3 linked regions of the Homo sapiens genome follow. Each later gene encodes a partner of the first gene's protein in a complex. Each region holds a gene or a part of one and is shown in the gene's direction. Other genes may lie near its edges. The genes, in order: SNRNP40, SNRNP200 and BCAS2.

The links.
Region 2: SNRNP40 (region 1) and SNRNP200 share a complex: the UniProt entries of both Homo sapiens proteins name them as parts of the U4/U6-U5 tri-snRNP complex.
Region 3: SNRNP40 (region 1) and BCAS2 share a complex: the UniProt entries of both Homo sapiens proteins name them as parts of the postcatalytic spliceosome P complex.

What each region holds. Positions count from the first base shown.
Region 1 is NC_000001.11:31,286,734-31,290,388, reverse strand, and holds part of SNRNP40 (U5 small nuclear ribonucleoprotein 40 kDa protein), read left to right. Parts: intron 1-969; coding exon 970-1,135; intron 1,136-3,655. UniProt on the Homo sapiens protein: Required for pre-mRNA splicing as component of the activated spliceosome. Component of the U5 small nuclear ribonucleoprotein (snRNP) complex and the U4/U6-U5 tri-snRNP complex, building blocks of the spliceosome.
Region 2 is NC_000002.12:96,284,961-96,288,615, reverse strand, and holds part of SNRNP200 (U5 small nuclear ribonucleoprotein 200 kDa helicase), read left to right. Parts: intron 1-646; coding exon 647-753; intron 754-1,058; coding exon 1,059-1,177; intron 1,178-1,455; coding exon 1,456-1,610; intron 1,611-1,738; coding exon 1,739-1,928; intron 1,929-2,131; coding exon 2,132-2,305; intron 2,306-3,275; coding exon 3,276-3,436; intron 3,437-3,655. UniProt on the Homo sapiens protein: Catalyzes the ATP-dependent unwinding of U4/U6 RNA duplices, an essential step in the assembly of a catalytically active spliceosome. Plays a role in pre-mRNA splicing as a core component of precatalytic, catalytic and postcatalytic spliceosomal complexes.
Region 3 is NC_000001.11:114,569,281-114,571,714, reverse strand, and holds part of BCAS2 (pre-mRNA-splicing factor SPF27), read left to right. Parts: intron 1-964; coding exon 965-1,015; intron 1,016-1,642; coding exon 1,643-1,723; intron 1,724-2,434. UniProt on the Homo sapiens protein: Required for pre-mRNA splicing as component of the activated spliceosome. Component of the PRP19-CDC5L complex that forms an integral part of the spliceosome and is required for activating pre-mRNA splicing.

The sequences.
Region 1 (3,655 bases):
GTGCTCCATCAATTGATACATAGCATTGTATACATTTTAAATAAAGCATTAGAAAGCTGGGCCTGGTGGCATGTGCTTATAATCCCAGCTATTTGGGAGGCTGAGGCAGGAGGATTCCTGGAGCCCAAGAGTTCAAAACCAGCCTGGGCAACACAGTGAGACTCCATCTCAAAAAAAATGAAAAAAGAAAGCATTATAAGATCAGTTATAACTTAGAAATCATCCTCAGAGGCTGGGCGTGGTTGCTTACGCCTATAACCCTAGCACTGTAGGAGGCTGAGGCAGGAAGATTGCTTGAGCCCAGTTCAAGACCAGCCTGGGCAACATAGTGAGACCTTGCCTCTACAAATGATTTTTAAAAATTAACTGAGCATGGTGGCACAGACCTGTGGTCCCAGCTACTCAGGAGGCTGAGGTGGGAGGATCACTTGAGCCCAGGAGGTCGAGGCTGCAGTGAGCCATGATTCCAACCCGGGTGACAGAGCAAGATCTCATCTCAAAAAAAAAATGAAAGAAAGAAATTGTCCTCAGAGACAAAAGAAAAACTTTGGTAAAGAGAAAAGATTGGAGTCACTCAGCTGTCAGGTCGGTACCACAGTCTGTCTGATCTCTGCAGCACCAGGGAGTTATTAAACATTTCCAAGTGAGAGGGTGTCTTATGTTTAAAATGTTAGCTATCACAAAAGAGGAAAAGATAGAGCAAACTGCTACATTAGATGTATGTCATGGGGACTCAAAGAAGGGGAATTTTTTAAACTTCACAGGGGTAGATCTTTTATCTGGGCCATCTGGGCCTAGAGGACAAATAGGATTTTGGTAGGGTGAGGCATTCCAGCATCATGGGCAAACTGGCGTAGCACAGCAGGTCAGTGATCTTGAAAAATTTGGCACCTTTTGTCAAGTAGGAAAGATAGATTGTTACTGTTTATCTTCACTTATTTCTTTTTTATTCTTTCTCTTACTTTCTAGTATGCTTTTCTCAGCATCCACAGATAAAACCGTGGCTGTGTGGGATAGTGAAACAGGTGAGAGGGTTAAAAGGCTAAAGGGACATACTTCCTTTGTGAATTCCTGTTATCCAGCCAGGAGAGGCCCTCAGCTTGTCTGCACTGGCAGTGACGATGGCACAGTTAAGGTGGGTATTGTCTCTCCGTGTTCCAGTTTCTGAGGTGATGTGATGTGAACCTTATCTTGCCTTGCCACTTGTACTCTAGCTTCCTGTGCAAAACTTAATTTTAGCAGTCATCTCCCATAACACACTTGAAATTTTTCCCCATTTAAAATAAAACATTTAATACAAGTTTTAATTACCCTACAGAATAATAATAGAACCATAGAATAAATTGTTACTTGAAATAGGCCGGGTGCTGTGGCTTACGCCTGTAATCCCAGCACTTTGGGAGGCCGAGGCGGGTGGATCACGAGGTCAAGAGATCAAGACCATCCTGGCTAACACGGTGAAACCCCGTCTCTACTAAAAATACAAAAAATAAGCCGGGCGTGATGGCGGGCACCTGTAGTTCCAGTTGCTTGGGAGGCTGAGGCAGGAGAATGGTGTGCACCCGGGAGGTGGAGCTTGCAGAGATTGCACCACTGCACTCCAGCCTGGGCGACAGAGCGAGACTCTGTCTCAAAAAAAAGAACTGTGACAGTAATATACGTGTCTTTCAAGGCTGTTATGAGTATCTCCACCAACAGGGAGGTAGCAAAAAAAAAAAAAAGGCTGTTCTGAGATTATAGACAATATATAAAAAGTTCAGTGAATAGTTTTAGTATGGCACAAGATGGGAACTTAAACATCGTTTAGTCAGATGGTTGCCAGCCTATCTTTATATCATCATCACCTGAAGAACCTGTTAAAAATACCCAAAGAATCTGGTTCAGTGGATCTGCAATGGGAATCAGATATTTTAATGTGTCCTTCAAGTGATTCAGTGTAGCCAGTCTCACATTCTGGGAGCCACTGATCTCACTGAGCATCCTCATTTTATAAATAAGGAAACTGAGGCCTAGAAATAATAATTTATCTCAGAGGCACACAAGGACACAGTACATCATAGTACCAACCATTTGATTCTCTCTTTGACACGAATTTTGGGCTCTGGTTTATATTTTAATTGTTAAACAGTGAGGGACTTCAAAAGAGTACATCTGGGAAACTACACCCCCATACTTCTTATTGCTTTTTAAATGAATTAATGAATTTGCTTTTTTTTTTTTTTCTTTGAGACAGGGTCTTGCTCTATCGCCCAGGCTGGAGTGCAGTGGCACAATCTTGGCTCACTGTAGCCTCCACCTCCCGGGTTCAAGTGATTCCCCAGCCTCAGCCTCTTGAGTAGCTGGGATTACAGGTGCACACCACCATACCTGCCTAATTTTTCTATTTTTGGTAGAGATGGGGTTTCACCATGTTGCCCAGGCTGGAGTGCAGTGGCGCAATCTCAGCTCACTGCAACCTCTACCTCCTGGGTTCAAGCAGTTCCCCTGCCTCAGCCTCCCTAGTAGCTGGGACTACAGGGACCCATACCACGCCCAGCTAGTTTTTGTATTTTCAGTAGAGGCAGGGGTTCATCATATTGGCCAGGCTGGTCTCAAACTCCTGACCTTGTGATCCGCCCCCCTCGGCCTCCCAAAGTGCTGGGATTACAGGCGTGAGCCACCACACTTGGCTGAGACGTTTTTCTACTGAGTGGTTTTCTTATACCTAATCACTTGGGGCCCCTTGATGGTTGGATGGGAGGAGAGTCTGTTGTTTAAGATTGGTTTCTAAACCAGAGCTCTGACCTAGATGTCACTGTAGTTGGAGAGTCTTAACAGTAGCTGATTTACTAATTGTCATTTCAGAAGATAGTAAGAGGTGGAAATGCCCCAGTGAATTTTGTTAACATTATTATTGAGGGCCTGCTGTAATAAATATCTAGGAACTATTTAGGTAGTAGAAAAAGAGTATATGTCCTTTCTGTCTGCCTTCTTTTGGTTTTTTGCTTCTCTTCTGCCTTAATTAAACATGATTTGGAATAGTTATTTTTACCTTATTACTCAAGTTAATACTTTTTTTAATAAGCAGTATGTCACATCACCTAAAGATGACTGCTTTTTAACCAGCTCCTATTTTTAATGTCAGTATATTTATATTTAAGGCATCATTAAACAGCTTTTTGCAATGTACTTTTCAGTTACTTGTGAAGTTGGAATGCTTTGTGTTCTTGTATTTTTGTTACTAGGTTGCAAGTACAGGAATTGAATAACTTCAGTTTAAGAGGAAAAAAAGTCATGTTGCTTTTTACATGTCAGAGTTCTTAACAGAAAGCAAAGGTTTCCAACAGCACTTGCATTTTTAGTCTAAAAGCATTCTGGGCATTATTCATACAGATCGTTTTCAAACTTTTTATCAAGTGCATTCTTCTAATAAAATTAAGTGAAATACTGCGTGTATGTGTGTATGTACTCATATATATATAAATTTCCCTTTCATGAGCAGTTCAGTCCTAAAGCCAGTTATATAGGCCAAAGCAGGGAAGGTGCTCTAGTTAGAGATGGGCCAAGGTGGCCCAGAGTAGAGTGTCAGAGCACAAGTGTGGTAAGGAGAGCATCCACACTGGGCAGGGCAGTACATTGTAGGGAGTAGTCAGAGAGTGAGGAAGGCATCCATACA
Region 2 (3,655 bases), on another chromosome or scaffold:
CAATCCCTGTGTGCTGTGTGCATCCTGGGGAAAGGAGGCCCGACCCTAGTGAGATGGGAGGAGTGCTTAGTTCTGCTCTTGCCGGGTAGTTGGTTGGTGCATGTGTGGTACAGCCACTCTGTAGTATACATCTTGAGCACGTGGGAAAGGTAAGACCTTAAGAGGGAATGCTTCGAGGCTCCACGGGCCCTCAGAGAGACAGGAAGAGCCACAGCACGCAGTGTCTGCTTCCCAGCAGCAAAGTGATTTCCCACTGTTGCTGCACAGCTCATAAATAAATCCAAAAATGGCACAGGGTTTTATTAGCTGCTCTTCATCTTTACCTCTAAGAACAGGTCACTGGTACCCTCAACTCTTCCTAGAACTCTAAATGCTAAATGACTCAAAAGCTTTAAAATCATGCAGTGAATGTTAGGTTAAAATGTTGTGCAGTGACCTTGAGCCGCAGCACTCTTCTAATTGTTCCCCATCCGGCAAGCATCTACTATATGGAACGGAGAAAGGCGTAAAGACAGAGGGGACTTTGCCTTTGAGTTAGGGTGGGTGGTTGTGTCAGAGCTGGAGGTAATGAAACCGTGTGTAGAGTGGCTCATGAGGCCTGGGGATAGTCGAGACTTAACAGTGGGAATGCTGCTTCTTTGCTTAGTCGGCTGGCCGGTTGATGCGAGCGATATTTGAAATTGTCCTGAACCGAGGTTGGGCACAGCTTACAGACAAGACCCTGAACCTCTGCAAGATGATCGACAAACGCATGTAAGGACCCAGTGAGCTGGATGCTGGTCACCATGAGTGGGGGTCCCCAACCCAAGGGTCTGATGGGAAAGCCTCAGGGTGCATCTGATCTCCAGACCTGACATCGGAAGTATGACCTGAACCTTGGTGCACATTGAGAAGAGGGAAGGCCCTCTGTGGTGGAGGCCAGGGCTGGCACAGTGTCAGTGTCTGCCTTTAATGACTGTGTTTTGTGTAGTCACTGCTAAACTATTGGAAGCCATGAAGTGGGTGGTTTGTCACATCCCTGCAGAAGGGACCAACAGCTTTGCCTCCTTCCTGGATAGGTGGCAGTCCATGTGTCCTCTGCGCCAGTTCCGGAAACTCCCTGAGGAAGTAGTGAAGAAGATTGAGAAGAAGAATTTCCCCTTTGAGCGTCTGTACGACCTGAATCATAATGAGATTGGTGTGTGGGATGCTCTCGCCCTTGTCCTCACTGCCTGGGTGTCTCTCCCAGTTTGCCTATGTAGTCTTCCTGTTCCTAGGCCTGTGCATTAGTATCCTGTGTTCACTCCCCAAGTCCCACTGAAGTACAGGCTGGCCCTTGGTCTGGGGACTTGGAATCCTGGGCTCCACTGACCATAAAGGGAAGACCCTACCCCTTTCCCACAGTGGCCCTCAGGCCCAGTTTGCAGTATAGTAGGCAGGCTGGGCTGCAGCCTCAGTACTCTCATTTCCTTGTAGGGGAGCTTATCCGCATGCCAAAGATGGGGAAGACCATCCACAAATATGTCCATCTGTTTCCCAAGTTGGAGTTGTCAGTGCACCTGCAGCCTATCACACGCTCCACCCTGAAGGTGGAGCTGACCATCACGCCAGACTTCCAGTGGGATGAAAAGGTGAGGCTTTGCTGGGCAGAGGTGCTGGATTGGAGGTGCTCAGTCTACGTTGCTGGGCCGAGGAGATGGATTGGAGGCACTCAGTCTACGTTGACTCACATTCCTTTTACCCTTGCTCCTGTTGGCAGGTGCATGGTTCATCCGAGGCTTTTTGGATTCTGGTGGAGGATGTGGACAGCGAGGTGATTCTGCACCATGAGTATTTTCTCCTCAAGGCCAAGTACGCCCAGGACGAGCACCTCATTACATTCTTCGTGCCTGTCTTTGAACCGCTGCCCCCTCAGTACTTCATCCGAGTGGTGTCTGACCGCTGGCTCTGTGAGTGTCTCCTCTCCAGAGTCCCCAGGAACAGTCCCTCCAAGGACAGTAGAAGAATGTCTTGCACTTTGTCCCGGGCTTGCCCTTGCTGGGGACAGAGTGATACATATGCTGCCTAGGTTTCCAGTGTTCATGGAGGGGATCTAGAGGCCAGTGAGGGAAAGAGAGCAGTGCTTATATCCTTCCTGTTTCTTTTCTGGCAGCTTGTGAGACCCAGCTGCCTGTCTCCTTCCGGCACCTGATCTTGCCGGAGAAGTACCCCCCTCCAACCGAACTTTTGGACCTGCAGCCCTTGCCCGTGTCTGCTCTGAGAAACAGTGCCTTTGAGAGTCTTTACCAAGATAAATTTCCTTTCTTCAATCCCATCCAGACCCAGGGTAAGTGTTTCCATCCCTCCTCTGGAGGCTTTTGAAGTCACCGGGAGACAGATGTGCTCTGTGGCAGGCAGGGGAGTGGGGGTGCTCAGGCACTTGGGAGGTCTGGGAGCTCCTCAGTGTGACCGCTGGGACCCACCAGGACTTTTTCCTTTGTCAGAAGCCTTTGGTTGCTTTGCTGCTCTGCATGTGTCACTGTGGAGGGGCAATAGAGCAAGGCCTTACATGGCATGGTCATTTCTCGGGCCCAGGAGGCTTAGAGGCCTGCCCCTGGCGCTCAAGTATTGAACCAGAACCATGGGGTGGCACTGAAGCCTCCTCACCACATCATGATAAATAACGGGGACATTCACAGAGCAGGCACTGTTTCCTCAGTCCATGGCTGAGTACATCACCGGTGTTTTCTCTCTTATTCCTCCCATCAAGCCTAAAAGGAATCTCTATTGGAGATACTGCCATTAGTGTTCCTTTTATAGGTGAGGAACTGAGGCATAGAGGGTTCCCCAGTTGAACCAACTGATAAATAGTAGAACTTGGATTTTAATTCAGTCTTGATGCCAGGGATAAGGCTCTTACTTTCTACCTTAGGCTATTTCTAGGAAACGCAGGAGAGTGTTGAAGGGGCAGAGAAAGGGATCCAGTTCCTTTCTGTCCCGCATCCTAGTCCCTGAGAAGCAAAGAAGAATGTGTGGCTTCTTTTGCTTTGCTTTTGTTGTCATCCCACACATCTCCAGGGGACCTGGGCTCTTGATCTTGGCCTCTTCCCCTTTAACTGTTAAGTGGGAGCAGGTAAGGGGGTACAGTAGGGCTGGCCTGGAGTTAGAGGCTTGGATGCCTTAGCTCCTCTGTCTGCACTCCAGAACTGCCTGACTTCATTTCGTATGTTGTCCTTTGTTTTGACAATTGATCCATGTCCCAGTCCGTCTCTTCTTCCTTCTTGATACTTACACTGCTTCTTTCTGTTGGTTTCCAGTGTTTAACACTGTATACAACAGTGACGACAACGTGTTTGTGGGGGCCCCCACGGGCAGCGGGAAGACTATTTGTGCAGAGTTTGCCATCCTGCGAATGCTGCTGCAGAGCTCGGAGGGGCGCTGTGTGTACATCACCCCCATGGAGGCCCTGGCAGAGCAGGTATGACGTGGCGCTGTGTCATGTGAATTTCCCAAGAAGCATTTCATCTGTGATTCCGTATGAAGGCTTTCTAAGCCCTGAAATTTGCAGGGTCATTTCCTCAGTTTGTGTATTAAAGAAAAGCTGCCCCAGCCAAGCGTGGTGGCTCACGCCTGTAATCCCAGCACTTTGGGAGGCCGAGGCGGGCAGATCTCCGGAGATCAGGAGTTCGAGACCAGC
Region 3 (2,434 bases), about 83 Mb from region 1:
TACTCAGATATATTCCATCTTTTCTATGACAAGAAGTCATGACAGTTTAAGAAGTGACAAAAGGCCGTGTGGCTCACACATGTAATTCCAACACTTTGGAGGCTGAGGTGGGGAGATTGCTTGAGCCCAGGAGTTCAAGACCAGCCTGGACAACGTGGTGAAACCCTGTCTCTACAAAAAAGTAATGAAAATTAGCCGGGCATGGTGGCTTATGCCTGTAATCCAAGCTACTTTGAAGGCCTGAAGTGGGAGGATCAGTTGAGCCCAGGAGGTTGAGGCTGCCATGATTGCACCACTACACTCCAGCTTGAGCAACAGGAGAGCAAGACTCTGTCCCTCCCCTCCGCAAAAAAAAGCTGGGTACAGTGGCTCACGCCTGTTATCTCAGCACTTTGGGAGGCCGAGGCAGATGGATCACTTGAGGTCAGGAGTTCGAGACCAGCCTGGCCGACATAGTGAAACCCCATCTCTACTAAAAAAAAAAATACAAAAATTAGCAAGGCATGGCAGTACATGCCTGTAATCCCAGCTACTTGGGAGGCTGAGGCAGGAGAATCTCTTGAACCAGGAAGCAGAGGCTGCAGTGAGCTGAGATCTCACCACTTCGCTCCAGCCTGGGCAACAGAACGAGACTGTCTCAAAAAAAAAAAAGTAACCTAAGTACTCCAAGATCAGGCAGGGCATGGTAATCCCAGCAGTTTGGGAGGCCAAGGTGGGAGGATTGCAGCTCCTTGGGAGGCTGAGGCAGGAAGATTACTTGATCATGGGAGGTGAAGGCTGCAGTGAGCCATGATCACACCACTGCATTCCAGCATGAGTGACAGTCCTCGATTATGGAGTGTCCAACATAGTTCTTGGCACAGAGCTCCATAAATATGATTTTTGGCAGAAAAACTTGAAAAAGTTCACTTTTAATTGGTACTATTTTAATGTATTTTAATCTGATTTTCCTCTTTTCCTTCAGAAATCTAGTTCATATGATTGAACACGCACAGAAGGAACTTCAGAAGTTAAGGTAAATTGTTTTTTCCTATTACAGAATGAAGTTTAAGTGAACCTTTAATAAATAGAAAATAGGAGGAAAAAGAAAGCAAAGAGACTGCAGCCAGATGAAAGTAAACAATTGATCCACTCTCTTTGTTCAACATCTGACACTGGGTTTGCCCTACCTAAGTAGAGGAGAAATAGGCCTGAGGTCTGAAAACATCTCTGCCACTTGCAGCTTGCAAGTCTGCAAACATAGAAAGGCACTTTTAGAGTGGGAAAAGTTGCAGAATAACACATATAATCTGATTTTTAAAACCAATTTCTACACACACATATAGGAAAGCCTGGAAGGACACCCAGCAAAAACTCAACAGGAGTTATCAGGAAAAAGGAGACATGCATGAGAGGGGGGACTTGAGACTTGTAATCTGTGTGTGCTTGTGTGTGTGTGTGTGTGTGATTTCTCACAATGAGCATGTTTTATGAAACTTGTAATCAAAAAATAATTAGAAGAAAGGTAATTTCTACAGTTAGCCTATAACTGTACATAATATTGTTCTCATGGGATTAAGATATTCTCTTGTGTTATAGAGTTTTCTGTTGATTTAGGTCTTACATTAAAATGTAATTGGGTTGTATAAATAATTTTTTACAGAAAACATATTCAAGATTTAAACTGGCAGAGAAAGAACATGCAACTCACAGCTGGATCTAAATTGAGAGAAATGGAGTCAAAGTGAGTATCTATAATTCCATCATCTTTTAAATTGTTTAGCCCTTTCTAAGGTCGATTCAATAATATGATTCAAATAGCATTCAAATGGGATGCCACAGGTAACAAAGAAATGCTATTTTCTGAATTCACCCTTCCCCGTCTCTGCCTCTTTATAAGGTGTTAAAGAGAACTATAAACGAGAATTGAACCATTGGCGAAGGATCCTTTGCTAAATTGAACCATTGCTAAAGGATTCTGGTCTTAGAATACCCTGTTTTTAGTCTAGTATTTTTGGCCTTGAATAGAACTCTACCTTTATTCTCCTTTTAAACGGAAAAAAAAAAAAAATAGGCACGGTGGCACATGTCTGTAGTCCCAGCTACTCTGGAGGCTGAGGCAGGAGGATTGCTTAACCTGGAAGGTTGAAGCTGCAGTGAGTCATAATCACACCACTGCACTCCAGCCTGGGCAACAGAGCAAGACCTAGTCTTTAAAAAAAAAAAAAGGAAAAAAATTATTTTATAAAATCTTGTAGGGAGGGAGATTTCATACTTGGTAATTTTTTTGTACCTCAGGTTTATGCATTTTTAAAAATGTTCTTTTACATACACACATGTATACCTTTATACAATATAATCTTGAATATTTGTGTCATTTCTCTCTTCCTTTTTGCTTGGCCATTCCCTTTCTCCCTTCATTACTCAAGTCATTCTTGTTCCACCGTCTCCATGT